Linked DNA regions of Homo sapiens: all the other regions are reported to be linked to region 6. Evidence: microRNA targets listed by miRTarBase, many of them from high-throughput screens and not tested one by one. Region 6 holds a microRNA gene; each other region holds the end of a gene's coding sequence. Distances are between the middles of the regions.

The links. Region 6 holds the annotated microRNA hsa-miR-650 (AGGAGGCAGCGCUCUCAGGAC, at 2,560-2,580, opposite strand). A microRNA usually pairs through its seed, bases 2 to 8, with sites in the 3' UTR of a target mRNA and lowers its output. Matches are read on the target gene's strand: a 7mer-m8 pairs with bases 2 to 8, a 7mer-A1 pairs with bases 2 to 7 and ends in A, and an 8mer does both.
Region 1: miRTarBase lists CNNM3 as a target of hsa-miR-650. The part of its 3' UTR that is shown has no 7-base or 8-base seed match.
Region 2: the mRNA of NPTXR is a reported target of hsa-miR-650. Seed matches in the 3' UTR shown: 7mer-m8 at 885-891, 7mer-m8 at 1,321-1,327 and 7mer-m8 at 3,037-3,043.
Region 3: miRTarBase lists PATZ1 as a target of hsa-miR-650. Seed matches in the 3' UTR shown: 7mer-A1 at 876-882.
Region 4: the mRNA of TIMM10B is a reported target of hsa-miR-650. Seed matches in the 3' UTR shown: 7mer-m8 at 1,262-1,268, 7mer-m8 at 1,696-1,702, 7mer-A1 at 1,892-1,898 and 7mer-A1 at 2,693-2,699.
Region 5: miRTarBase lists USH1G as a target of hsa-miR-650. Seed matches in the 3' UTR shown: 7mer-m8 at 1,060-1,066.

What each region holds. Positions count from the first base shown.
Region 1 is chr2:96,831,811-96,835,881 of GRCh38, forward strand. CNNM3 (cyclin and CBS domain divalent metal cation transport mediator 3) reads left to right here. Exons shown (of 8, transcript NM_017623.5): 8 at 742-3,572. The coding sequence ends at 806. It overlaps LOC124907859 (a long non-coding RNA gene), which reads right to left and starts at 2,579. Exons shown (of 2, transcript XR_007087143.1): 1 at 1,501-2,579; 2 at 1-829. RefSeq lists enhancers at 486-1,685, 1,348-1,967.
Region 2 is chr22:38,819,291-38,823,375 of GRCh38, reverse strand. It overlaps NPTXR (neuronal pentraxin receptor), which reads left to right. Exons shown (of 5, transcript NM_014293.4): 4 at 114-293; 5 at 543-4,085. The coding sequence ends at 767. Among named protein-coding and RNA genes, the nearest start is that of NPTXR, 23 kb to the left of the region's middle.
Region 3 is chr22:31,323,429-31,327,514 of GRCh38, reverse strand. PATZ1 (POZ/BTB and AT hook containing zinc finger 1) reads left to right here. Exons shown (of 5, transcript NM_014323.3): 5 at 206-1,711. The coding sequence ends at 624. Among named protein-coding and RNA genes, the nearest start is that of PIK3IP1-DT, 9.9 kb to the left of the region's middle.
Region 4 is chr11:6,481,653-6,485,738 of GRCh38, forward strand. TIMM10B (translocase of inner mitochondrial membrane 10B) reads left to right here. Exons shown (of 3, transcript NM_012192.4): 2 at 105-200; 3 at 393-3,029. The coding sequence ends at 569. Among named protein-coding and RNA genes, the nearest start is that of TIMM10B, 2.2 kb to the left of the region's middle. RefSeq lists an enhancer at 1-471.
Region 5 is chr17:74,914,588-74,918,665 of GRCh38, reverse strand. It overlaps USH1G (USH1 protein network component sans), which reads left to right. Exons shown (of 3, transcript NM_173477.5): 3 at 590-2,583. The coding sequence ends at 593. Among named protein-coding and RNA genes, the nearest start is that of USH1G, 6.6 kb to the left of the region's middle.
Region 6 is chr22:22,821,285-22,825,370 of GRCh38, reverse strand. It overlaps MIR650 (microRNA 650), which reads right to left and starts at 2,595; the gene lies at 2,500-2,595. It overlaps LOC105372948 (a long non-coding RNA gene), which reads left to right. Exons shown (of 4, transcript XR_938047.2): 4 at 3,735-4,086. It also overlaps IGL and IGLV2-8.

The DNA.
Region 1 (4,071 bases), not on the chromosome of region 6:
CTGTGGGGCAGCGCAGCACCAGCACTGCAGCTGCCAGCTCTCCCTCAGCTTCCCCTGCCCGGGGCACCGGCCCTCTCCATGGTGCTGCCCGGAGCCAAGAGGCACAACCATTTCTGCTCAATAGCTTCTCCTCTTCTTTCTCTCTCTGCTCTCTTTAGCCTTCCCAGTAGACCTTTCCCTCTTTGGCACAGTTGGAAACTGCAGTTGATAAATGACTGTGGACTAGTGCGCGTTTTTTGTTTTCAGAGCACACGTAAGGTAAATATCTTCCCTCTCCCTGCCCCTTCACTTCCCTTTCCTGGCCCTTCAGCTGAGGGAGGAGCAGAGCCCATGGCTCCCCAGGCTGGGGGGCATTTTTCTCCAGGGGTGTGGGGTGGGCGCTCCCTTCCATCCTTCTGGAAGACAGGAGGGGTCATGAGACTCCTCCACTGTGGAAAATGGTGCTTCCTTCCAGCACAGGGTGCTGTATCGTCCCGGGAAGGTGCCTCTTGTTCAGCATAATGACCTGGGACCCTCGGGGCCAGAAATCCACAGCCCCAGCTTCCCCGTCTCCCAGGGAAGGCATCTGTTGGCTGACCATCTGCTAACCAGTCGCTCCTGTTTCTGCTCTGATACTTCCCAAGGCATCCCGAAGCACCTGTCTTAGCTGCCCCTTCCTGTCCCACAGAGGATTTGGCACTTGGTTTTGACAGGATACTTTACCAGCTTTGATGTTAATTCTCCTTCCCTTGTCTCCTGTAGGGTCCAGCCACAGCAGGCCCGGCGTCCCGGTGGAAGGCAGCCCTGGGCGGAACCCAGGCGTTTAACGGCTCACTAGGCAGCCCCAGATCTGGGGAACAGATGAGCACGTGGGGAGCTGGAGTGAGCTGAGCAGAAGTTTTGTGCCCGCCTGCCCCCATCCCCTCCAGGCCACGTTTTAGATGGCCCTTGTAGTTGCGGGTCCTGGGTGTCCTCAGAACTAGACATCAATGCCTGGATCCTTCAGCCGGCCCTGCCCTCCTTTAGGAGACAGGAGTCACCAGGGCACAGCCCTCCAGGCCCGCCTCAGGAAGGAATGAAAGGAATGCCATCATCTCTAGTTCCCAGGGCCCAGCCTTCCCCTTCTCCCCCGGGGCAGGGACAGTGCGGCATATTCAGATTCAGACCTCTTTGGGCTGAGCCACCTTGTGAGTGCAGTTACTGCCTTTGTGTGGCCGTGACCTCTATTTGTTTGCTTTTAATTTGCCAACCTATCGCTGCTGGCAGCACTTTTTGAGCAAGCCGAGAGCACCCATTTTGGCTGGGGGTTCAGATCGATGGCCTTGTCCATGTTGTCCTTTCTGGCTTCCCTGATGGTGTCATGTTTCAGCGCATGCGCCCCAGCCTTTCCCATGTGCCAAACCAGAAGCTCCACTGCCCGTAGGCTGTCCCTGTAGCCCTGCTCCCTCCCTGGAGGCTGCTCTTCTGATTCTGAGAGCTGGCCTAGTGGTGCTGAGGGCCCCTTTCTGCTTCTCTGCCCACCTGCTGAGTTGCCACTCGCAGTGTTGTCAGTTCCCGTGTTCTGAGAAGAGGTCATGCCTGGGAGGAAGGGATCGTCATGCTGCATCGAATCCTCTCTCCGCCGTGTGGCCCCCAGGAGAGTAGCTGCCTGTTGCACCTGCTCCACACCTCCCCACAGCCTCCCTGCAGGTGCTGTGTGGCCGTGATGTGCAGAGAGCAGTGAGGGAGGGTTCATGAACCAGGTGGATCCTCTTTAAAAAAAAAAAAGTTTTTGTTATATCTCTAGAACATTTCAAGTCTTTTCCTTTTTTTCTGTTCCTAGCTATGGGGTTTTAGAGAAGTGGGAACAGGAAGGCATTTGTCTTTTTCTTCTAGTTTACTACATTTTCCTTCCGTAGTTCTTCAGCTGTGTGGAAACGGGCATCACAAGGACATAGGATCATAGATTGGGTAGGGAGGGAGGAGGATTTCTGGAACTTTTCTCAAAGGAATTTGGACCCTTATAAATGGGACTGAAGGTCAAAACAACAGTGATATCCTTGCTTAGAAATTGTCCTCAAGGAATAAACTCTGAGAGCAAGCCCGGGTTGGAAACAGATGCTTTAAAATCCTCTCTCCAGAACAGTGGTTTTTTGTTTGTTTATTTGAGATGGAGTCTCACTCTGTCACCCAGGCTGGAGTGCAGTGGTGAGATCTTGGCTCACTGCAACCTCCACCTCCCAGGTTCAAGCCATTCTCCTGTCTCAGCCCCCTGAGTAGCTGGGATTACAGGTGCCCACCACCACACCCGGCTAATTTTTGTATTTTTAGTAGAGATGGGGTTTCACCATGTTGGCCAGGCTGATCTTGAACTCCTGACCTCAGGTGATCTGCCTGCCTTGGCCTCCCAAAGTGCTGGGATTATAGGTGTGAGCTAAGATCAGGGATTCTTAACCTTGGCTGCACACCAGAATCACCTGGCAAATTAAAAATACGTGGACCTGCCACCAGAGCTTGTGATTTAATCAGAGTCGGCATCAGAGTTTTCAATTTTTTATTTATTTATTATTATTATTATTATTATTATTATTATTGAGACAAGATCTTGCTCTGTCGCCCAGACTGGAGTGCAGTGGTGTGATCACGGCTTGCTGCAGCCTCGACCTCCCTGGTTCAGGCCATCCTGCCACCTCAGCCTCCTGAGTAGTAGGGACTACAGGTAGGCACCACCACACCCAGCTAATACTTTTAATTTTTTTTTGTAGAGATAGGGTCTCATTATGTTGCCTGGGGTAGTCTCGAACTCCTAGGCTCAAGCGATCCTCCTGCCTCGGCCTCCCAAAGTGTTGAGATTATAGGCGTGAGCCACCGTGCCCAGATTCACAGAAGTTTCATACACCTTTCACCCAGGTTCCCCTAATGTTAACAGCTTACATATAACCTTGGTACATTTATCAAAACTAAAGGTGCAATCATACTAATAGCTAGAGTTTATTTGGATTTTACCATTTTTCCCAATGTCCCTTTTCTGCTGCAGCAGCCAATCCAGGATGCCATACTGCACTTAGAGCTGTTGCTTTCTTTTTTCCTAACTTTATATTTTGAAATAATTTCAGATGATAGGAAGTTGTAAAGGTAAGGGCCCCACGCACCCTTCATCTAGTTTCCCTCCATGGTTACATCTTATATGGTTGTAATGCAGTATTCCAACAAAGACTCTGACACTGGTGCGATGTGGGTGGACAGTCCAAATCATTTGTCACATGTACATCTGTGTAACTACCACTGCAATCAGGATAAAGAAGTCCCATCCCCACAAGGATCTCCCTCCCCACCTTCCCTAACTCCTGGTAACCACTAATCGTTCATCTCTTCTTATTTTGTCATTTCAAGAATGTTGTATAAATGGGAGCATAGTGTGTAAGCATTCGGGATTGTCTTTTTTCACTCGGCGTCATTCTCGGGAGATCATCCAGGCATTGCATGTGTCAACAGTTTGCTCCTTTTTATTGCTGAGTGGTATTCCGTGGTGTATGCATTGGCCCCCTGAAGGACACCTGGGATGTTTCCAGTTTGGGGCTATTCCAAATAAAGCTGCTACGACTATTCATGTACAGGTTTCTGTGTCAGGATTAGTTTTCGAGGAGTGTAAATGCTTGGTCATAGGGTTGTTGCATGTTTCGTTTTTTAAACAATCAAACTTTTTTTTTTTTTTTTTGAGACGGAGTCTCACTCTTTTGCCCAGGCTGGAGTGCAGTGGCGCAGTCTCGGCTCACTGCAAGCTCTGCCTCCCGGGTTCATGCCATTCTCCTGCCTCAGCCTCCCCATAGCTGGGACTACAGGCGCCCGCCACCACGCCCGGCTAGTTTTTTGTATTTTTAGTAGAGACGGGGTTTCACCATGTTAGCCAGGATGGTCTCGATCTCCTGACTTCGTGATCTGCCCGCCTCAGCCTCCCAAAGTTCTGGGATTACAGGCGTGAGCCACCGCACCTGGCCACAAACTGTCAAACTCATGTCCTCACCGGCAACCTAGGATGATCAGTTTCCCTGAATCCTCCACAGCACTTAGTGGTGTCCACATGTTTTTACTTCAGCCGTTCTGACAGGTGTG
Region 2 (4,085 bases), 16 Mb from region 6:
GGTCGGGCCCTGGAAGGATGGACATGGGTCTCCCCAGCCCCACCCCACTGCCTCAGCCATGGGCCTTGGGCCTTGGGGCACCTCTGACCTGGGGTTGGGGGACCTGTGTCCAGGTGGCCCAGCTGCCCCTGAGCCTGAAGGACAATGGCTGGCACCACATCTGCATCGCCTGGACCACAAGGGATGGCCTATGGTCTGCCTACCAGGACGGGGAGCTGCAGGGCTCCGGTGAGAACCTGGCTGCCTGGCACCCCATCAAGCCTCATGGGATCCTTATCTTGGGCCAGGAGCAGGTAAGGCTCAGGCTGATATTGGGGCTGGACCTCCTAATTGTGCAGATGGGCAGACTGAGGGCCAGAGAGATCAGAGACCTGCCCAAGGAACTAGAATCTTGAAGGTGGGGCTAGAGCGTTGGCGGTGGGGCTTCAGTGGGGTTGAAGGTGGGGCTGCCTCGGGGACAAGAGCCTGACTGAGCCAGCCTGCCTGTCTTTTCTGCTCCCTCACTCCATGCCTCTCCTTTCTCTGCTGCTGTCTTGGCCCAGGATACCCTGGGTGGCCGGTTTGATGCCACCCAGGCCTTTGTCGGTGACATTGCCCAGTTTAACCTGTGGGACCACGCCCTGACACCAGCCCAGGTCCTGGGCATTGCCAACTGCACTGCGCCACTGCTGGGCAACGTCCTTCCCTGGGAAGACAAGTTGGTGGAGGCCTTTGGGGGTGCAACAAAGGCTGCCTTCGATGTCTGCAAGGGGAGGGCCAAGGCATGAGGGGCCACCTCATCCAGGGCCCCTCCCTTGCCTGCCACTTTGGGGACTTGAGGGGGGTCATATTCCCTCCTCAGCCTGCCCACGCACTGGCCTTCCCTCCTGCCCCACTCCTGGCTGTGCCTCCCATTTCCCCTCACCTGTACCCACACCTCCAGAATGCCCTGCCCTGCGAGTGTGTCCCCTGTCCCCACCTGAGTGGGGAGGAGCGTCTCAAGTGAACAGTGGGAGCCTGCCCACCTGGCACTGCACTGGAGTTGTCTCTTACCCCACCCTCCCTGCCCATCAACTGTATCTGATTTCACTAATTTTGACAGCACCCCCAGTAGGGTAGGATTGTGTATGAGGGGGACCCCACTATCTCAGTGGTGGGGGTGGCCGCCCGCCCCCTTGTCCCCCATGCAACAGGCCCAGTGGCTTCCCCTTCAGGGCCACAACAGGCTGTAGAAGGGGATGACGAGGACATCAGAGGTTAGACTTACCCTCCTCCCTCTTTCCACCAGCTGCCAGTCAAGGGCAGTGGGATCTCGATGGAGCCTCCCCCCCCCCCCACCCATGCCTCCCTCTTCCTCCTCTTTCCTCCTCTCTTTGTGTGTAGCGGTTTGAATGTTGGTTCCATGCCTGGCCCAGCCCCACCTCAGTCTCCAGGACATTCCTTTCCCAGCTCCAGCCTGGAGGGAAGGGGACAAAGACCCCAGGAGGCCAAAGGGCTGCAGTCACCCCTTGTGCTCACCCATAGTGATGGCCACTGGTATAGTCATCGCTCTCCCTCCATGCCAAGGACAGGACTTGGACCGCTTCAGCCTGGGCTGGGAGCAGCCCTAAGGTAGAGGCCTCATGGCCCAGGAGACCCCACCTCTGGCAGAGCCACATTACCTACCCTGTGCATGGTCCTGGGGCAGCAAGGAAGAAGCTCAGAGGGTGGGGAGAAGCATGAAGCAGTGAGCAGAGCACTGGGTGAGAGGGAGAAGACCTTGGTTCCTAGCCAGCCCTGCTAATGTGCTGTGTGGCCTTCTGTAAGTCCCTGCCCTCTCTGGGCCTGGCCTTCCTCATTCGTGAGCTGAGGCCCTCGCTTTGGTCATTTGCTCTCCAGATTGGGTGTGAGCTTCTCTGTGATTCCAGGTGGATATGTGGGGAAAGCTCTGGTGACCCTGGGCTTCGCAGGGGTAGATCCCAGGACTCGGCAGTGGATGGGATGCAGCCAGTCATGGGTTAGGGTCAGCAGAGACTCAGAGTCCAGGGCAAGGTTCAAGGCAGACTAACCTCATGCATGGATTGTAAAAAACCAGCTCCCTTTGGATCAACCCAGCCTGGCACCCTTGCCTGTCTGAGAGTGTCTCAAAGGGCTGATGGCTTCCTGGTCCCCTTGAGTCATCACCAGCTTCCCCAAGAGAGTGTCAGAATCTTAAGAGCTGAGAGGCCGGGCACGGTGGCTCACGCCTGTAATCCCAGCACTTTGGGAGGCTGAGACAGGCAGATCACTTGAGGTCAGGAGTTCGAAGTCAGCCTGGCCAACGTGGTGAAACCCCATCTTCACTAAAAATACAAAACTTAGCTGGTTAGGTGGTGCATGCCTGTAGTCCCAGCTACTCGGGAGGCCGAGGCAGAAGAATCTCTTGAACTGAGGAGGTGGAGGTTGCAGTGAGCCGAGATCACGCCATTGCACTCCAGCCTGGGCAACAGAGCAAGACTCCATCTCAAAAAAATAATAATAATCTTAAAGATGAGAAAAGCCACCCCATCTGGCACCACAGCTGCATCTTGCTTGTGAGAAATGGGGAAGAGTTCAGGGAGGACACGTGACCTGCACAGGATCACAGAGCATGGGGCAGAGCCAGGACTAGAGCTCAGGGCATCTGACTCCCTCTTCAGTGTTCTTCCCCCTCCATGTTGCCTGCCCCTGAAGACCTTTGAGTTCAGTCTACACCTAAGCAGGTAGACATCCGCGAGGTCAGATGCTTTCCAACATGACACCTGAACATCTTCCTTTATGCAACACCCAAACATCTTGGCATCCCCACCCCAGGAAGTGCGGGGAGGAGGTTATGATCCCTGGGCGCTTCGGCAGAATGGAGAGCTGAGGTGTCCCTCCCCTGCTAGTCACCTACCAGGTGTCTGAGCAGCTGCATGCTCCCTGGCTCAAGTGGGCACTGTACCTTTTGCCTGCCTTTTTGTTCCCTATCTCCACTCCCTGAGGCCACTTAGCCTGAGACATGATGCAAGAGCTGCAGGCCGGGGGGCTCAGTGCCATGGAAGCTACTCCAAGTTGCATTGCCTCCCGCGCCCAGATCCTGCTTTCCATTTCGAGAACATAAATAGATTGCCCAGCCCCTCCAGTACAATCCCACTGGAAGAAAAGGCAATGGCGGGCTTCAGCCAGACCTGCTGAGACCTAGGTTGCCACGGTAACAGCCAAAGACATCAACCCAAGTGCTGGGTCAAGTGTCTCATCATACTGGCACTGTTGCTGGGGTGACGGCAGAATTCAGAACTTCAATTTCAGTGACGCCAAGCTTGATGTGTTTCTGTTATTGTTTTGAAGAAGGTAGCTCTTGTGGAGGACTTGGGAGAAGGATGGGGTCTTAGGAAGGAGGTGACAGCACTTGCATGGTCACTTGAGCCCACACACACGCTCAACCCCAAGTCCTTTATGCTTTGTCACAGTGAAGATGAGACCTCTGACGTCCAAGCCTTGTTCCTGTGCTGCATCACCCACTCAGCCTTCCAAAGGGAACAGGAACAAATTTCCCCAGCACCACTGTTTGGGTCCCGCTTTTCCTATCTTCTGCTGCCCCTGAGCACATCCAAGCAGACAGGGAAAGAGGAGTCAGACATGGCCCAGTCACATCCTGAGCTGCTCCTGGCTGATAACCACGATGGAGCCCGTGTTTGTCCTGCCATCTGGCACTGCACTGAGTGTGGCACAGGCACCGTCCTGTTGATCTCACAACACAGTTCTAAGTTAGGACGTTCTTGGCTCCGTTAGACAGGTGAGGAAACTGGGGCACAGAGAGGTGATGTCATCTGCCTGGTGTCAATCAGCTAGCAAGTGATGGAGCCCAGATTTCAAACCAAAGGGGGTTACGTCCAGGGGCTGAGTTCCCACTCACCTGTGTAGAGTGCCATCTGGGCACCATTGCTCCAGACGTGTTCCGACCCCTTTCCCAGCCCACAGGGCTTGAAGTGAAGGAACAGAGGCAGGGGGTGGGCCAGCCCCAGGGCCAGGGTCCCCTTGGTGAAGCCGTGCCAGGGGGCTCAGCTGCTTCAGGGAATGTGTCCCTCCCACCATGGGCCAGAGCTTCAGCCCTTCTTTAGCTCAGC
Region 3 (4,086 bases), 8.5 Mb from region 6:
GCAGCCCTAGGGCCCTGCCGTTTCACCCCTGTAGGCACTCCAGGCTCCCAGACTGACCAGCTGACCCTCCGTGGGTTCTGCCAGGGCAGTGGCTGGCCAATGGCTGCCCTCCACAGGTCTGTGAGCTGGCCCCTCATGACCCCTCCAGGAGGGGGCATCTCCAGAGCCTGGCCTCATCGCTCTCCTATATTTTGTTTTTTCGTAGAAGGCCAGAAATGCTCACATCAGGATCCGATTGAGAGCTCTGACTCCTATGGTGACCTCTCAGATGCCAGCGACCTGAAGACGCCAGAGAAGCAGAGTGCCAATGGCTCTTTCTCCTGCGACATGGCAGTCCCCAAAAACAAAATGGAGTCTGATGGGGAGAAGAAGTACCCATGCCCTGAATGTGGGAGCTTCTTCCGCTCTAAGTCCTACTTGAACAAACACATCCAGAAGGTGCATGTCCGGGCTCTCGGGGGCCCCCTGGGGGACCTGGGCCCTGCCCTTGGCTCACCTTTCTCTCCTCAGCAGAACATGTCTCTCCTCGAGTCCTTTGGGTTTCAGATTGTTCAGTCGGCATTTGCGTCATCTTTAGTAGATCCTGAGGTTGACCAGCAGCCCATGGGGCCTGAAGGGAAATGAGGCAGCTGCTGTGTCCCCACGGAAACAACCATCTGGGGACTGCTGGGAAATGCTGTGAATGCGGAGGGAAGTGATGTTTGGGTTCTGTAGCTGAGAGATTTTTATTCATTTTTAACTGCCCCCCAACCCCACTCCAACTCCTTCTCCACCACCCATTCTCCCAATGGTCTTTAGAAATAGATTTTCATCTGATATTCTGCAGAAATATCAATGAGACTTGGTATGGGACAGGGGCAGAAAACACTACATAGGCCTCCAAGGCAAAACCAGTCCCAGTTTCTTTAATGGGAAGAAGCTGGAATTCCTGGTGCTCAATTCTTAGTGACCCCAATCCTATACCCAAATCTATGATATTCTGGGACCTCAGTGATTTTGGTCCCCTCCCACTTCTCTAGTTCGTCATCCTCCCTTCCCATATCCTTCAAAAGAACCACACTAGGGTCTCCACCTACTTATACAATGCGGATGCCCAACTGTTTTTAAGGAAGCCAGAAGCATCCCATGGACCATGGGGTGAGTGTCCTCCAAGAGCCCCCTGAGCTCAGCCCTCTGCCTGGAGGGCTCCAGACCTTTCTGAGCCCTGCTTGGAGGCGAGCATTTTCACTGCTAGGACAAGCTCAGCTGTTGAGGACACCCCCACCCCAAATTTCAGTTCTTACGTGATTTTAACCATTCAACATGCTGTTGGGTTTTAATTCTCTAATTATTATTATTATTGTTATTATTTTTTAGGACCAGTTGTAGTGAATTGCTACTGAAAGCTATCCCAGGTGATACAGAGCTCTTTGTAAACCGCAGTCACACATTAGGGTTAGTATTAAACTTTGTTTAGATGTACCATAATTAACTTGGCTAGTTGATTGTTTGAAGTCTATGGAAGAAATAGTTTTATGCAAAATTTTAAAAAATGCCAGTCTGGTCAGGGAAGTAGGGGGTTTCAATGCTGTTGGGAACCAGGAAGGTGGGACAGCCGGCAGGTAGGGACATTGTGTACCTCAGTTGTGTCACATGTGAGCAAGCCCAGGTTGACCTTGTGATGTGAATTGATCTGATCAGACTGTATTAAAAATGTTAGTACATTACTCTATCTGCTCCCTTGAGTCCAGTTTTTCAGCTGTGGGGGTCTTTGGGACCCAGAGGTGGGCAGTCCATACCCCAGCACCTGGGGTGGGAGTGGGATCCCAGGAGACCCCTTTTCCACTTCATTGCACCAGTTCCACTGGGATTGACAGGTAGATGGTCCCACTGAAGACTTAGAATGCCAGAATTCACCCATGTGTTCAACAAATATCCACTGCTTGTCTTCACTGCTTGTGTGCCAGGCATGGTTTCATGCTCTTGAGATATGGTGGTGAACAAGACACCACTGTGAGGCTTAATGGGATAGACAGACAACTTAAATATGAGTTCAGATAATGAGAAATACAAGGAGAAGAACTGGGCAAGGTGAGGGGACAGTGACAGCAGGAGGGTGAGTAGGGTGGACCAGGGAGGTGTGAAGTGGGGTTGGGGCTCTGGGAGGGAAGGCTTATAGAGGGGATCTGACACAGCCTACCCAGCTAGCACCTGAGGAGGGATGTGGGCAGGGACTCCTCATGGCCAAGGGGCTCTAAGAAGCTCAGCAACTTGTCTCCCCCACCATGTTATCTACCTGATGTTAAGTAAAAGGTTGGTGCACCGTTAATGGTGAATGTATGAAGAAAAGAGGGAAAGAACAACAAACAGGAGGCAAGAAGTAAGCACGATGGAGAATTAATAGGAATAAGAATGAGGAACAAGAAGGGACAGGCAGACTTAAGGCACCCTGGGCATCTTGAGAAATCTCAGGGAAGAGGGAAACCCCTAAAAGGATAGAGACAGCATTTAACCTCCAAGCAAGAAGAAAACAAAACAATGGTAAAGGAGAGAAAAACAGACCTAGGGGAACAAACAGCACAAAAATTTTTAGACCCACATTGGTATCAGAATTACATTATTTTTTGTTTTTTTGAGACGGAGTTTTGCTCTTGTTGCCCAGGCTGGAGTGCAGTGGTGTGATCTCGGCTCACTGCAACCTCCGCCTCCCAGGTCCAAGCAATTCTCCTGCCTCAGCCTCCTGAGTAACTGGAGTAACTGGGATTAAAGGCATGCACCACAATGCCTGGCTAATTTTTGTATTTTTAGTAGAGACGGGGTTTCACCACATTGGCCAGGCTGGTCTCGAACTCCTGACCTCAGGTGATCTGCCTGCCTGGGCCTCCCAAAGTGCTGGGATTACAGGCGTGAGCCACTGCACCCTGCCTAGAATTACATTGTTCTGGTGTAAAGGTAAAGACTCTCAGCTGAATTTTTTAAAAAACAATTCTAAGCCATTTACACAAAATCCTTGGTAAGCTGCTGGGCTTTGCAGACTGTGTGGAATAGAGGCTTAGGCCATTAGATGTGAGTATCAAAGGAAAGGGTGACCCTAGAATGTGGAGGCCCTGTGGACACGTAGCTTTGTGACCACCACAGAATCTGGTCACACCCACTGAGTGTTAAGAGAACCTGGCCTTGAACCAAGGACTTGACTGGGCCAGCCCGAGCTCCTGAACGCATTTTAGTTCTGCTCCCTGGAGACCTGTGAGCATGTCCATGGACAGGTAGGGACCACAGGTATTAGAAAGGAGTATCTGTCACATGGCAGGAGGGGAACAACAGAGCAAGCAGGCTGTTGCATCTTCCAAAGCACTGCTCCCTTGGCAGCCTAAGCTTTGGGAGGCTAAGGCAGGAGGATCACTTGAGGCCAGGGGTTTGAGACCAGCCTGGGCCACATAGGAAGACTCCATCTCTACAAAAAATGAAGAACAGCTGCACATGGTGGTGCCCGCTTGTAGTCCTAGCTACTCAGGAGGCTAAGGCAAGAGGATCGCTTGAGCCCAGGTGTTCAAGGTCACAGTGAGCTATGATCACGCCACTGCATTCAAGCCTGGGTAACAGAGTGAGGCCCTAACGCTAAAAAAAAAAAAAAAAAAAAAAAGGAAGAACCACCTGAGCTTTGGCTATTCGGCTCCATCATCTGCTCTCTGCCAACCTTGGGGAAATCCCTAAATCTCTGAGCCTGTTTCCTGATCAGGTCTTTTGTGGAGACCAAAAGAAACCATCATCATGAGCTAATCCCCTGCACAACCTATAAGGTTGGTTTCATTATTCTATTATCATCCCCCTCTTGCAGGAAACAGGCTCAGAGGGATGGAGGAACTCCCCTGGGTCACATAGTAAGTGGAAGAGTCAGGATTCAAACTGAGGTCTGCCTTGTCCTCAGACTTTACTCCTAAGCTCCCAGTGATAGTTTCTGGTTTTTTGTTTTTTGGTGTTTTTTTTTTAGACAGAGTCTCACTCTGTCACCTAGGCTGCAGTGGTGCTATCTCGGCTCACCTCCACCTCCCGGGTTCAAGCGATTCTCCTGCCTCAGCCTCTCAAGTAGCTGGGATTACAGGCACA
Region 4 (4,086 bases), not on the chromosome of region 6:
ACTTCGGGCTATGGCGCGCGGGCCTGGGAAACTTTGGGCGGCGCGACCTTGACTAGAAGTGTGGGGCCCTTATCGCTGAGTTTGTGGTCCCCCTTTTCTCTCAGCTGCGTGACTTCCTGTTGGTCTACAATCGGATGACAGAACTCTGCTTCCAGCGCTGTGTGCCCAGCTTGCACCACCGAGCTCTGGACGCTGAGGAGGTGGGGAACTGTGTAGGGAGGTTACGCTGCAAGAAGAGTTTAGCGGTAGACTGCTTCCCTCCTCACCCCACTTCCCGTACCTCTGGCCCTGGCCTTCCCACGACCCTCACCCCTAGGCTGGGCATGGGGAAGAAAGGAGGCGGACCCGACAGGGCACCTTTATCCTCCACTTAAACCCTATCTTCCTTCTAGGAGGCCTGTCTGCACAGCTGTGCTGGGAAGCTGATCCATTCCAACCACCGCCTCATGGCCGCTTACGTGCAGCTCATGCCTGCCCTGGTACAGCGCCGCATCGCAGACTACGAGGCTGCCTCGGCTGTGCCAGGCGTTGCTGCTGAACAGCCTGGGGTCTCTCCATCAGGCAGCTAGCCATACCCAACCCCAGGAAGGAAGGCCTTGGATGGACCCTCAGATTGAAGGACCCGGTGGACCTTGGGGTTGGTGAATCCTAAACAGAGAGAATTCGAGGTTGCCTGAAAGCTGGGTGTCCTTGCTCCTTTTCCTGGAGCCAATATACCCAGTTTTTACTCAGTTTGATTTATATTCTGGGCAAGGAAGCTTTGCCTACTTTATTGGCACAATCCGTTGTTCTGTCGTTTAGTGCATATCTGCTGGCTTCAGCCCTGGCAGCTGAGAAATTGTTTTCTATATGTAGAAGGAAAACCTGAGCATTTGCAGGCATCTGGTTAAAGCAGGGTCTGTGTGTACAATTTTAAAACGGGTAATATGTCATGCTCTTAGTTCATCTTCACAACAAAACTATGAGTAAGCGGTATTAGCCTCACTTAACAGATGAGGAAGCAAGATTCCAGAAAGTACCAGAAGGTCATTTTATACAACAGGAGATTGGTTCCTGCCCAGATGACAGAAAATGGGAGCTCTGTCTAGTTGTCCTTAAGTCTGACTGACTTCAGTGGCTCATAACCGTGAGCCAAGTATTTGTTGGTTCATAACTGTTGTTTTGTGAACTATGTCTTACATGTCTAGAGTTCTGCTGGATCTAGGGAAAGGAGGAGCTATCGAAGTACAACGGATCAAAAAACCACAGGGCTTTTGGGCACTGCCTCCTTGGGAAGTTAGTGGCCACAGAAGAGAGATGAAACCTGTAAGAAGTCTGGAGTCTTTTGGAACTTCAGCCATTTCCCCAGGTTGTTACTTTCTTAGTATGTACAGTCTTCTCAGGATGAGCAGTAAAACCTTTGAACAAAGGTCTGTGTGGTTGTCTTCACGGGCAATCAGGAAGGGAGAGAGCTGGGGACCATATTCTGCAATGCAGCCAAATCCGAGGAAGAGAAACTGAAGGGAGAAGTAGATGGCAATGGTTATGATAAAAAGGGATAAAACTAAATCTTCGGGACTTCTTTAATGCTACGTTAATGTTTCACTGCTCGTCTAGAAACTCCTAAATCCAGCTTTCTATCATCTGCCCCACATTGGTCCCATTGAGTACATTCTGTGATTTCTAATTCCAGCCTCTCCATTCTTTTCTCATTATTGCCTCCCCCGCCCCCCAACTTTGTGTAATTTACTTCTGTATTCAGCAGCCTGGATAGCATATCATTCCATCACCCCATTTTCTTGCCACCATTGGCCATCTTTTTGTATCATTCCACTTATTCTGTCTTTTCCATTCCTTCATTCAAACTGCTAGAGAAAAACAGTTGTGTAATGAATGCCACTAAATATTCAAGGCCTCCAACCTCAGCCAAGTCCTCACACCAACACGCAGTCACACCAACACACACCTTTATGGGTTCCTGGTCCATTTCCTTCTCTAATTACCATGGCAGTTATTTTACACCTCTACTGCTGTCCTTAATCCCATACCCCACCCTCATCAGGTGACCCTGTTTCCTTTTTTAGAGAAATTGAAGCTCTTAGACATTGGTTTCCACAGTAATAATTTTAAAACTTCTTACAACTACCTACAAAGCAGATGTTCTATCCTATCTACAGAGCAGAAAATTGAAATTCTCAAGTAGCAGACCCGGTATTAAAGTGCAGATCTGACTTTAAAGTCCATGTTCATTTTACACAGCAGGCTGCCTCTTAAGATAGTATTTATTGAGCACACACTTTGTGTAGGTTCTGATTTTGGTAGATGTCATGCTTTATATTAATCTTTACAACAACTATAAGTAAGAGGTATTAACCTCACTTAACAGATGAGGAAGCAAGAATCCAGAATGTGCCAGAAGGCACATTCTGCAGATTTCGTGCAAACATTTATACACAGCTTCTTTTTTTTTTTTTTGAGACAGAGTCTCGCTCTGTCACCCAGGCTGGAGTGCAGTGGAGCGATCTAGGCTCACTGCAACCTCCGCCACCCGGGTTCAAGCAGTTCTCCTGCCTCAGCCTCTCGAGTAGCTGGGATTACAGGCATGCGCCACCACGCCCAGCTAATTTTGTTTTTGTATTTTAAGTAGAGACGGGGTTTCACTGTATTGGTCAGGCTGGTCTTGAACTCCTGACCTTGTGATCCGCCCGCCTCGGCCTCCAAAAGTGCTGGGATTACAGGTGTGAGCCACCACGGCCGGCCTATACAAAGTTTCTTATTGAGAAAAGTGGTTCCAATCATGTTTTTTGCCCCCTTTAGCTGCTATCTCTTGAACAGAAAAGTTTGTTAGGAAGGTAAAAGTTGCTGACTAGGACCTTACCCACAGGGTGGCACTCTGTCCTTGGGAAATATAAATGCAAGTAAAACAGGTTTGAACTTCTTAACTTCCAGAAGATAGGAGGATGGGACCTGTGATACTGTGCTGCTGGTGGGAGGACCCTTCCACATCAACATTTGTGTGTATCCTTGCAATAAACTTCCATTGTGAATTATCTGTGCTTCCCGTCCTTCCATGTCACACAATAGTAATTGCTAAAGAAGAGCTAGGAGCATAGATCTGTCTGATTCTAAAGCCTTTGCTCTTTGAACTTTGAGAGCTTCTATCTGTACTTAACCTGCCTCTAGGCATGAAAAAACAAATGTCCCTCAGTCTGACCCATCTCTTAATCCCTTTCTTAAAATTTCAATCTCTTGTCCTGGTTCTTTCCTGTTTATAAATATGTTCAGTGTTCAGGAGAAAAACCTTATTCCTACCACTTTACCTTCCATAATCTGGTCTTCCTCAGGTTTTACCATAAAGTGATAGCCATTGGCATAATCGGAGCAATGTGATGTTCCAAGCACAACACTAAAGAATAAATGTTGACAAGCTTTATCATGTTATCATAAATGTAAACGTTGGAGATACTTTGTTGTTCCTGCCATTGTGGCTTCAGAACTGCCCACTCCTTTGCAAAGCCTCATTCTTTTGAGGCTGTTCATCCATACAACCCTCTGATTACTTGTCTACCACTCTCATTTACTACTACTCTCCTGCTACTTTAAATAGCTAGCCCTTGGTCTTCCTGTCCACTCCTTGATATTTTAACATTTACATAGACAATTCATTTGGTGTTTTGTCTCCTAGTTATTTGGCCCAATCTCTGATGATTTCCACTCTGTCTTGGCCACTCACTCCGTTTGTCATATCTTGGCCATTATCATCACCTCAAATTGCTCCATCTTCAAAATACTTGCATCTTATTTATTGACCATATTCCTTCCACTTGGTTTATTGAACTATTCCCTCTATCATTCTCTGATTTCACTGCAGCCAATGCTTCTGCTTTCCATTAGTCCCTTCCTTCTTTAGATTCCTGTATAGCTTAAACTAGTGGTTTTCGTGCAATAGGCTGAATTTCCTTGCCTTTCATCTCTTTTTGAACCCTTAAATAAAGTGATACTTGTCTGTACCTGCATTTGGACAGCTAAATGCCACCCCAGGAAACAACTGTGGAGCAGATTTATATCACTATGAATCCATGGTTATCAGCTTCAAATGTAGTCTCA
Region 5 (4,078 bases), not on the chromosome of region 6:
TCTGTATTTTTAGTAGAGATGGGGTTTTGCCATGTTGGCCAGGCTGGTCTCGAACTCCTGACCTCAAGTGATCTGCCCACTCTGGCCTCCCAAAGTGCTGGGATTACAGGCGTGAGCCACCGCGCCTGGCCTTAGGGAGATGTTTTACCTACTGTTCCTGAACTTTGCAATCAGGAACGTGGGCAAATGCTCCCAAGAGGGTCAGCAGCAGCCCTGGAGGCAGAGTTCATGTTCCAAAGGCCGTCATAGTTGCCCAAGGCTGCCACCACAATGGTCATGCTGTGGCCAGCCCCTGCCCTGGCCCCTCCCCAATGGCATCCCACAGGCCCAACAAACTTTGTCCTCATTTCCTCTTAGGTATCTATGGCCGTTATCCTGAATGGCTGGGGCAGGGATGGGTGTGGGGAGGCAGGCTGGTTCAGAGTTTTGGGGATGGGGAGGTCACCCATAGGCTGGCGTCCCCCATCCCTGACAATTGGCCTGCCGAGAGATGGGGAGGCTAAGTTGTCCAGATGGCTGCCCTGGGTGAAAATGATGCCTCTGGAGGGCCTCATGTGAGATCTGTTTCTTTCTGTCTCTTCCTCCACAGATAACCGGGGGCTCCTCTCCCCAGACCAAAATGAATTGCAAGTTGCCACAACCTATGGTGGGGTCTCGAGGTCCTCACAGTTGCCAGCCCTGCAGCCCCCTTCCCCAGGAGCAAGGACCAGTTGGGGCGACTCCTTTGAAAGTCTGTCTGCACCTTGAAGCTGAGGGTGTGGCCTGGAGGCACCAGAGGGGCAAGAGAATGTTCCGGAACTCCAGTTCTGAGGGGTCTTGAAGGCCCTGAGCCACCCATTCTGAGCAGCCGTAAAGGACATGTAGACTTGGGGGAGGCCTGCCCCAGAGGGAGGGCAGGGGCATCGGAACTGGATGAGAGTGTGGGAGGTGGATGCGGGAGGGTGCACCTGTCCCGGGCGCCGTGGCCTCTCCCACCCCTCCCCTGATGGTCTTGTTCTCTTGTGCTCAGGCCAGAGACTTGCTCACTTCCTGCATTGTTGTGAAGGGAAGAGTTTGGGCTGCCTCCCCTCCTCCCGTCCACCCCAGAGGGGAAGTTCCTCAGCCAGACTCTTCAGCCAAATGCCCCAACTTTCAGTCTGTACCCCATCCCAAGCATAGCCAGCTCCCCCTCCTTCACCTAGTGGTCAAGGCCCGGAGCTGGAAAGCCGGGTTGGGGTGGGGTGGGGGTACTGACGCCCTTCCCAGCTCATCCAGGGGTGGAGCCTGGCCTGTCTTCCTCCAACCTCCCCCTTTTTCGTTGTGCAGCCTGGCCCCCCAGGGACCCCAGAGGGCCAGGGCGCTAGATGCAAGGTGCTAGACCAATGGGCTGCAGTATTATAGCCCCCAGGCCTGGCAGGCATGCGCTGGGCTAGAGAAAGGTGTCCGCCAACCTCCTCAGTCTCCCAGGCCTGGGACAGGCAGAACAGGGTGTGGCTGGGTGTCAGGCCTGGGGTGGGTAAGTCCTGCGATGTGGACACTGGAGAAAGTGGATCCTCTAAACTGCAGATTGTCCCCAGGTCACCAGGGCTGTGTGCGTGTGCATGTTTGTGTGCATGTATGCGTGTGTGCATGCATGTGTGTGTAAGTATGTGGTATGTGTGAGCACGGGTGTGTGCTTGGGTGTGTGTGTTCTTGCATACATGTGTGCGTGTGTGTGCACGTGAACGCGTGCGTGTTTGTGTGTGTGCATGCATGTGTGTGCATGTGTGTGTGTGCATGCATGTGTGTGTGTGTGCATGTGTGCGTGTGTGCACACTCACGTTGGGTGGTGTTTGGTAGGTTTCCCTCCAGGTCTGGTAGGGACTGGGCTGTTGCGTGATTCTGCGTGGATCGGGGGTAAGAGAGCTCACCTGTGTCCCAGCCCTCTGATGGTGGTGAGACCAGGGGAAAGGCCAGCTCAGAGGGTGGTCACAGCATGTGTCCTCTGACGTATGCCCCCAAAGCTCTCCAGCCAGACTGAGGTCACAGATGTGGGAGAGTCCCTGATGAGCCCGCTGACACGTGTGCGCCCCTTTGCACCCCATGCAGAGGTGCTCTCCTCCTTTCTCAGCCATGGCCCCCCATCCCTGACCTCAGCTTGGGAAGCAGCTCCTGCTGGGAGCATGGCCTCAGCCCCCAGCATCTCCTGGGGCCCCCATGGCTGGGGCAGGGGAAAGAGAGCCCTCAAAGGCCTCTTTCTGGTCTGTCTGGGGGTTCCCATTCCCACACATGTGCCCAGAGTAGGGGGCATGGAGGAGATGGTCCCTGTCCTACTGCAGGACACTGAGGGCTTGGCTGCCTGCCACCGCCATCTGGAGCCCACCACAGCTCTTCTCCCTGTTCTCTGGGCCTGAGCCTGGGGCCACCCCCAAGTGCCGACTTGTTTCTCCCAGAGCCCCAGGTGCTGCCCCTTCTCTCCTGTTCCTCGTCCGTTTACTGCCGCAGCCCCTCCTGGTTCTTCTGGTGCTGGGGTGGAGCAGGCTCTGTGCTCCCACCACTGTACCCCGAATCCCTCCTGCAGGCTCATTGCCACTTTTGTAGAGAATGTTCTCTATCAGTATCGTACCTGTCTTGTCCTTTAATGCTTTGGGGATAGAGTGAAGAGTGGAAGGGTGGGGGTGGGGGCGGGAGGGGGTCTGCTCTGCGCTTGTGAGGACTGGGTCCTATTCTCTGGAGTGTCTTCGAGACCCCATGCTGTGCATCTTTGCAGGGATCCCTAGGCCTTTACCTGCTCTCCTAGCTCAGCCCAGAATTAGGAGCTGGTGGAGAGGCAGGGCTGAGAACTAGGGCAGGAGAGTCCCCCTGAGCAAGGAGGATGGCTGAGCCTCCAGGCTTGTTGCCAGGGCCTGCAGCTACGGAGGGCAGGAGGATGCATGTTCTCTCTTCCCACCAGTGCCTACCTGGGTTTTTCCAGAGATGGGCAGAAACATACTCCAGGAGGCTGCTGCCTGTCACCTGGGCTCTGGGCCTCTGGAGGGGTCTCCATGAGGGCCCTCCAGAGGCCCAGAGGGGTCTCCATGTCCCTCATCACCGCAGGCAGCTCGTGGGCAGCCTGATTTGAAGCCCTGCTTTCTCCCAGGGGTGAGTCTCCTCCATAAGCTGGTGCCTAGTGGGCTCTGTTTTCTCAGTCAGGTCTGAGGAAGGGCCCTGGAGTCATCTTGCTCCATTGCCTAAGCTGCTGGGCCAGTTTCTTCTGCCAAAGGGAGTTCAAGACAGTTCCCTTCCCTCAGCATCAATCAGAAAGGTCCCCAGGATGTTGGTGCAGGAAGGTTGCCTAGCAACCATCCAGGGGTTCCAAGCCACCTCCCTCCACTTTACAGATGGAAAAACTGAGGCCCACAGAGGGGAAGAGTCAGACCCAGAACGCGGGTCTCTGGCTGCTGCCATGCTCTCCTCACACTCAGGCTGCCAAGGGCGCTAACACAACAGGATTCCACCAGCCATGCCCTGGGGGCGCACCTCCCTGCGGCTTCTTTGGCCATCCTGGTCACTGCACCCACCTCAGGAAAGACTCACTGGTCCTTGCCGCGATGGTCCAGAAGAGGACACGGGTGAGGAATGACAAGACAGAGAGCCGAGGGGCACTTTGGCATCCCAGCAGAGATGAACCAGAGGCAGCAGGATGAGGGGCTCCATGGGTCAGTGTGGCTCCAGGGCAGAAGCCTGGGGTGCCAGGAGCAGGAGCTGCTCCAGGGAGCCTGTGGGGATGTTCAACACAAGCAAAGAGGAGAAAATATTACATGGTAGGGGCTCAACTTTCATGACTCATTTCCCTAAAGATTTAGATCAAGAATAGGGACATTTACGAGGTCAGGAGATCGAAACCATCCTGGCTAACATGGTGAAACTCTGTCTCTACTAAAAATACAAAAAATTAGCCTGACGTGGTGGTGGGCGCCTGTAGTCCCAGCTACTTGGGAGGCTGAGGCAGGAGAATGGTGTGAACCCGGGAGGCAGAGCTTGCAGTGAGCCGAGATTGCGCCACTGCACTCCAGCCTGGGCGACAGAGCGAGACTCCGTCTCAAAAAAAAAAAAAAAAAAAAAAAGGGACGTTTTAGCA
Region 6 (4,086 bases):
CCACCTGTTTTTCCATGGCCCCAGAGCTGAGAGTGGTTTTTATAGGTTTAAATGGTTACACTATAAATGGTGCTAAAAATACCTACAGAATATCCTCAAAGTTGACTCTTGGGAACCACAGACCAAAATCCTTCTTATCTGGACATTTAAGAAAATGTTTACCAAATTATAAAAATAAATAGCACTGAAGTATTAGAGAAAATGCTCAACTTCAAGCAGAACAGGAGAAATCAAAACTAAAAAAAGATAACATTTTTAAATCTGCTAGGTTGAAAAACATTTAAACTTTCCCCAGTGTACTCTGTTCGAATATTTATGGCTGACATTGCGAATTTGTAGATAACCCCTCTAGAGGAGAATCTGAGGACAGTGAGTGAAAATTACAAGCACACATCCTTTTGACTCAGCAATTTGACTTCTAGAAATTTATTCTATGGTCATGTCTACATATAAAATCAAAGGAGTCTACATAAGGATGTTCGCTGCAGTGTTATTTATAAGATCAAAATAGTGATAATAACCATTAAAAGTGAGTTGGCTAAAATTCTACCATAGAATACTCTACAACCTTTGAATGAATGGGGCAGTGCTCTATGCCTAGGATGTCTCAGCAAAGAATAAAAAATAGTGCATGCATGGGATGGTCTTTTACATGGAGGACAAGGACAGGGGCCTTCACTCCACTCTCTCCTTTATCCTTGAGATGATCTACATCTGCCAAAGAGGTTAGGAACTGCGGAAGTCTCCCAGCCAGAGGGAGGCTTCCACAGCCAGAGGGAGGCTTCCACAGCCAGAGGGAGGCTTCCACAGTTCCTAACCTCTTTGGCAGATGTAGCCTGAATGCAGCCTGGCCTGACAGCTTGGCTGCAACCTCGTGATTAACCAGGAGCGAGAATGACCAAACTAAGCTACTCCCAATTCTAGGTGCATCCAAGTCACAAGGTCACAGACATGTGTTCTCTTAGTGTGCTAAGTTTTGTGAGTGTTTTTTTATGCATCAATAGACAATACACTTTGGTTTTTGAAATAAATTTTAGTGTTTATATTTCAGGTACACAACATGATGTTATATAGTAGTTACTTTGTAAATATATATAGTAAACTAGTTACTTTGTTTTAAATATAATCTGTATAATCGAAGTTTAAGGAGCCTAAACTATATATGATAATAGCTGTATTTAACAACTGGCTCAGAAAATTTAAATATTGGACCCAGCTAATGTCCGAATGTGTTCTAAATCAATTCTCACCATTAGATTATTAGGGATTCCAGGTACAAAAGTATTGACAGCCATGAAAATTAGAAATGCTCGATGTCCATGAGGAAGGGAGGTGGACTCAGGTTAACTCTTTCCTGTGGAGCCATTTTGGAATCCCCCATCCTATGGGAAGACCGTCCACTTGTGAGGAGTTTCCAGGACAGGGCCTCAGCGATGTGAGGGGAGGAGAATTCTGCGAGAGCACTGAGCCTGTCACTCAAAATCTCCCCAGCTCAGCAACCTGAGGAATTTCGGCAAAGAGCAGGAGCAATAAAAAGAAAAACAGCAGCATCCTCTTTGTTCTTAATCCCTCAAAAACATCTTCAAGTCTTCTTAAAGTGGTCACTTTAAGCTAGGAGGGCCATCTTCATTAGAGCGTGGTGGACACAGAGTGGAACAAGATGCAATTCCTGGAAACTGGAAGCCATCCCCCTGATGGCTTCTGTCCAGATTGATCTGCATAGTGTGACAGATGGGGGATGCATTTAGAATGAGGATGTTCCTGAAAACAGGAGGGACTGCACCAAGCAGTAAACTCCTTGTCCCTACGTCCCTGCATTGAAGAGCTAGGAATAGTTGCACGTTAAGGGACCAGAGCACACAAGCAAAAGGAAGTTGCCACAGTCCTGAACGAGAAATCACGAGCAGGTTTCCTTTTAGACCTCATGGTGGGAAAGGAGAGGAGCTGAGAGAGGAGAATTGTCAAGGCCATCCTGCAGGAAACCCTTATACAGCGTGAGGAAGCATCTGCAGAGCAAGAAGGGGGCCTGAGAGCCCAGGGCAGGTTTTGATCTTACTTCCTCATTGACTTAAAACACTGTGGAAATTGTTGCTGCCTGCATATGAGCTGCAGTAATAATCAGCCTCATCCTCAGCCTGGAGCCCAGAGACGGTCAGGGAGGCCGTGTTGCCAGACTTGGAGCCAGAGAAGCGATCAGGGACCCCTGAGGGCCGCTTACTGACCTCATAAATCATGAGTTTGGGGGCTTTGCCTGGGTGCTGTTGGTACCAGGAGACATAGTTATAACCACCAACGTCACTGCTGGTTCCAGTGCAGGAGATGGTGACTGACTGTCCAGGAGACCCGGACGCGGAGGGAGGCTGAGTCAGGGCAGACTGGGCCCAGGACCCTGGAAAGGGAGAAACACAGTCTAGTGAGTCAGTGCTGGGCCCAGGTGAGCCTGAGGAGCAGGAGACCAAGGATCAGCCCAGAGGTCCCTGTGGCCCCTTCCCTGGAGGCATCACCTGTGCCCTGAGTGAGGAGGGTGAGGAGGAGCAGAGCCCAGGCCATGGTGGTGACGTCCTGAGAGCGCTGCCTCCTGAGACCCCAGCACTGGGCCTGCCCCCAGCCCTGTCTTATCCCCTCTGCCTCAGAGAAGGGCGGGACCTCCATGCAAATCTGCATCCTGAGCTCCTCTTCTCACCCCACCCTCACTTGGGCCTGGGCTTAGAGACTTCTGCTTCCCTTGACAGCGGGGCTCAGCCAAGGAGACTAAAGTCCCTGATTGTCTATTCTGATGACAGGAAGTTGATTTCTTTGCACGTGATTTGCTCAGGAGAGAAAAATCTGCTGAAGCCCCTCACCTGAGTGAGCTCTTGGCCCTCAGTGTCTCTGCTGTGTGGTGCCTGTGTCTCTGTGACCCTCCAGGCCTGGGCACACCTCGAAGTAACCTCTTTCTGGCACTCATTGCCAGGTTCTCTCTATTCTCAGGAAATGGGGCTGCCCAACCCCACTGGAAGCCTCTGCTGGGTGGCGTTGGTCCCTGGTCTGCCCAGCGGCAGCCTCGTCCCATCCCCACTCCCATGCTTTGTCCTGAAGCATCTGCACCATCAAATCCCTGGAGCACATCAGCCACCCCAGGCAGTGCACCCACATCCACACGGGCACATGTGGGTGGGACCCTGTGAAGGGAACAAGGAGCACCAACCAGGGCCACAGTCCTGAGCCTGAGTCCGCTGCTCCCAATCCTGCCCCTCCCACTCATGAGCAGGTGACTTGTCCTTCCCAGCCTCTGGTTCTCAGCCTGATAAATGGAGACCACAGAGTCCGTTCTGCATACAGGTGATCCATGGGGATATGAGCCAGCAGGGAAAAGGGAAAGTTTGCTAACAGGCCTTTCTATGTGCACCAGAGTGATGTTATCTTGAAAGGTTTATTGAAAGATTTACTTCCATTTTACTGTGATTTATGTGTCAGGTCACAGAGATGCACGTTTCCGGCTTTCTTACTTTCCCCCATCTGAGCACATCCTCAGGACAACCTAAAGCTGACCTCTCTCAACCCTTCGACACTGAAGACACACAGACATTCAATAAAGACATTTTTAGTTTTTCCTCCAAATGCGTTTAATCTTTCTTCATCTTTCCCCATTGCCTATGATGCAACTCTTTTAATGTTCCATATTAAAATAACTATTAAGGGATTCAGGTTCTATTTAAATATTGTAACATACACTATCCTGTCTTCCCATCTAGATTGAGCTATAAAACCATGACAAGTGCATGGAGCAGCTATTTGAGCACCAGGAAAGGAAATGGTACGCAGCAGTTTGGGATGGCCCCAGCAGATGAAATACAACAGAGTCAGTGTGAGACTGCTGGATTTCCTCACTGTCCCCTGGCTGGGACTCCAGACAGCCCCAAACCTGAAGGGGCACAAACCTGAAAACAAAAAGAAGTCCAGAAAGCCCTCTTGTTCAGGATCGAACTTGGGAAAGAAAACTTATTTGGCTCAAAGTGAAGGCTCAGTCCCCTGCACAAGCAGGTGGTTCACACCTGTGTTCTCATCTCTCTTATACCAGCGCCTCTCCCTGGGTTCACACTGATG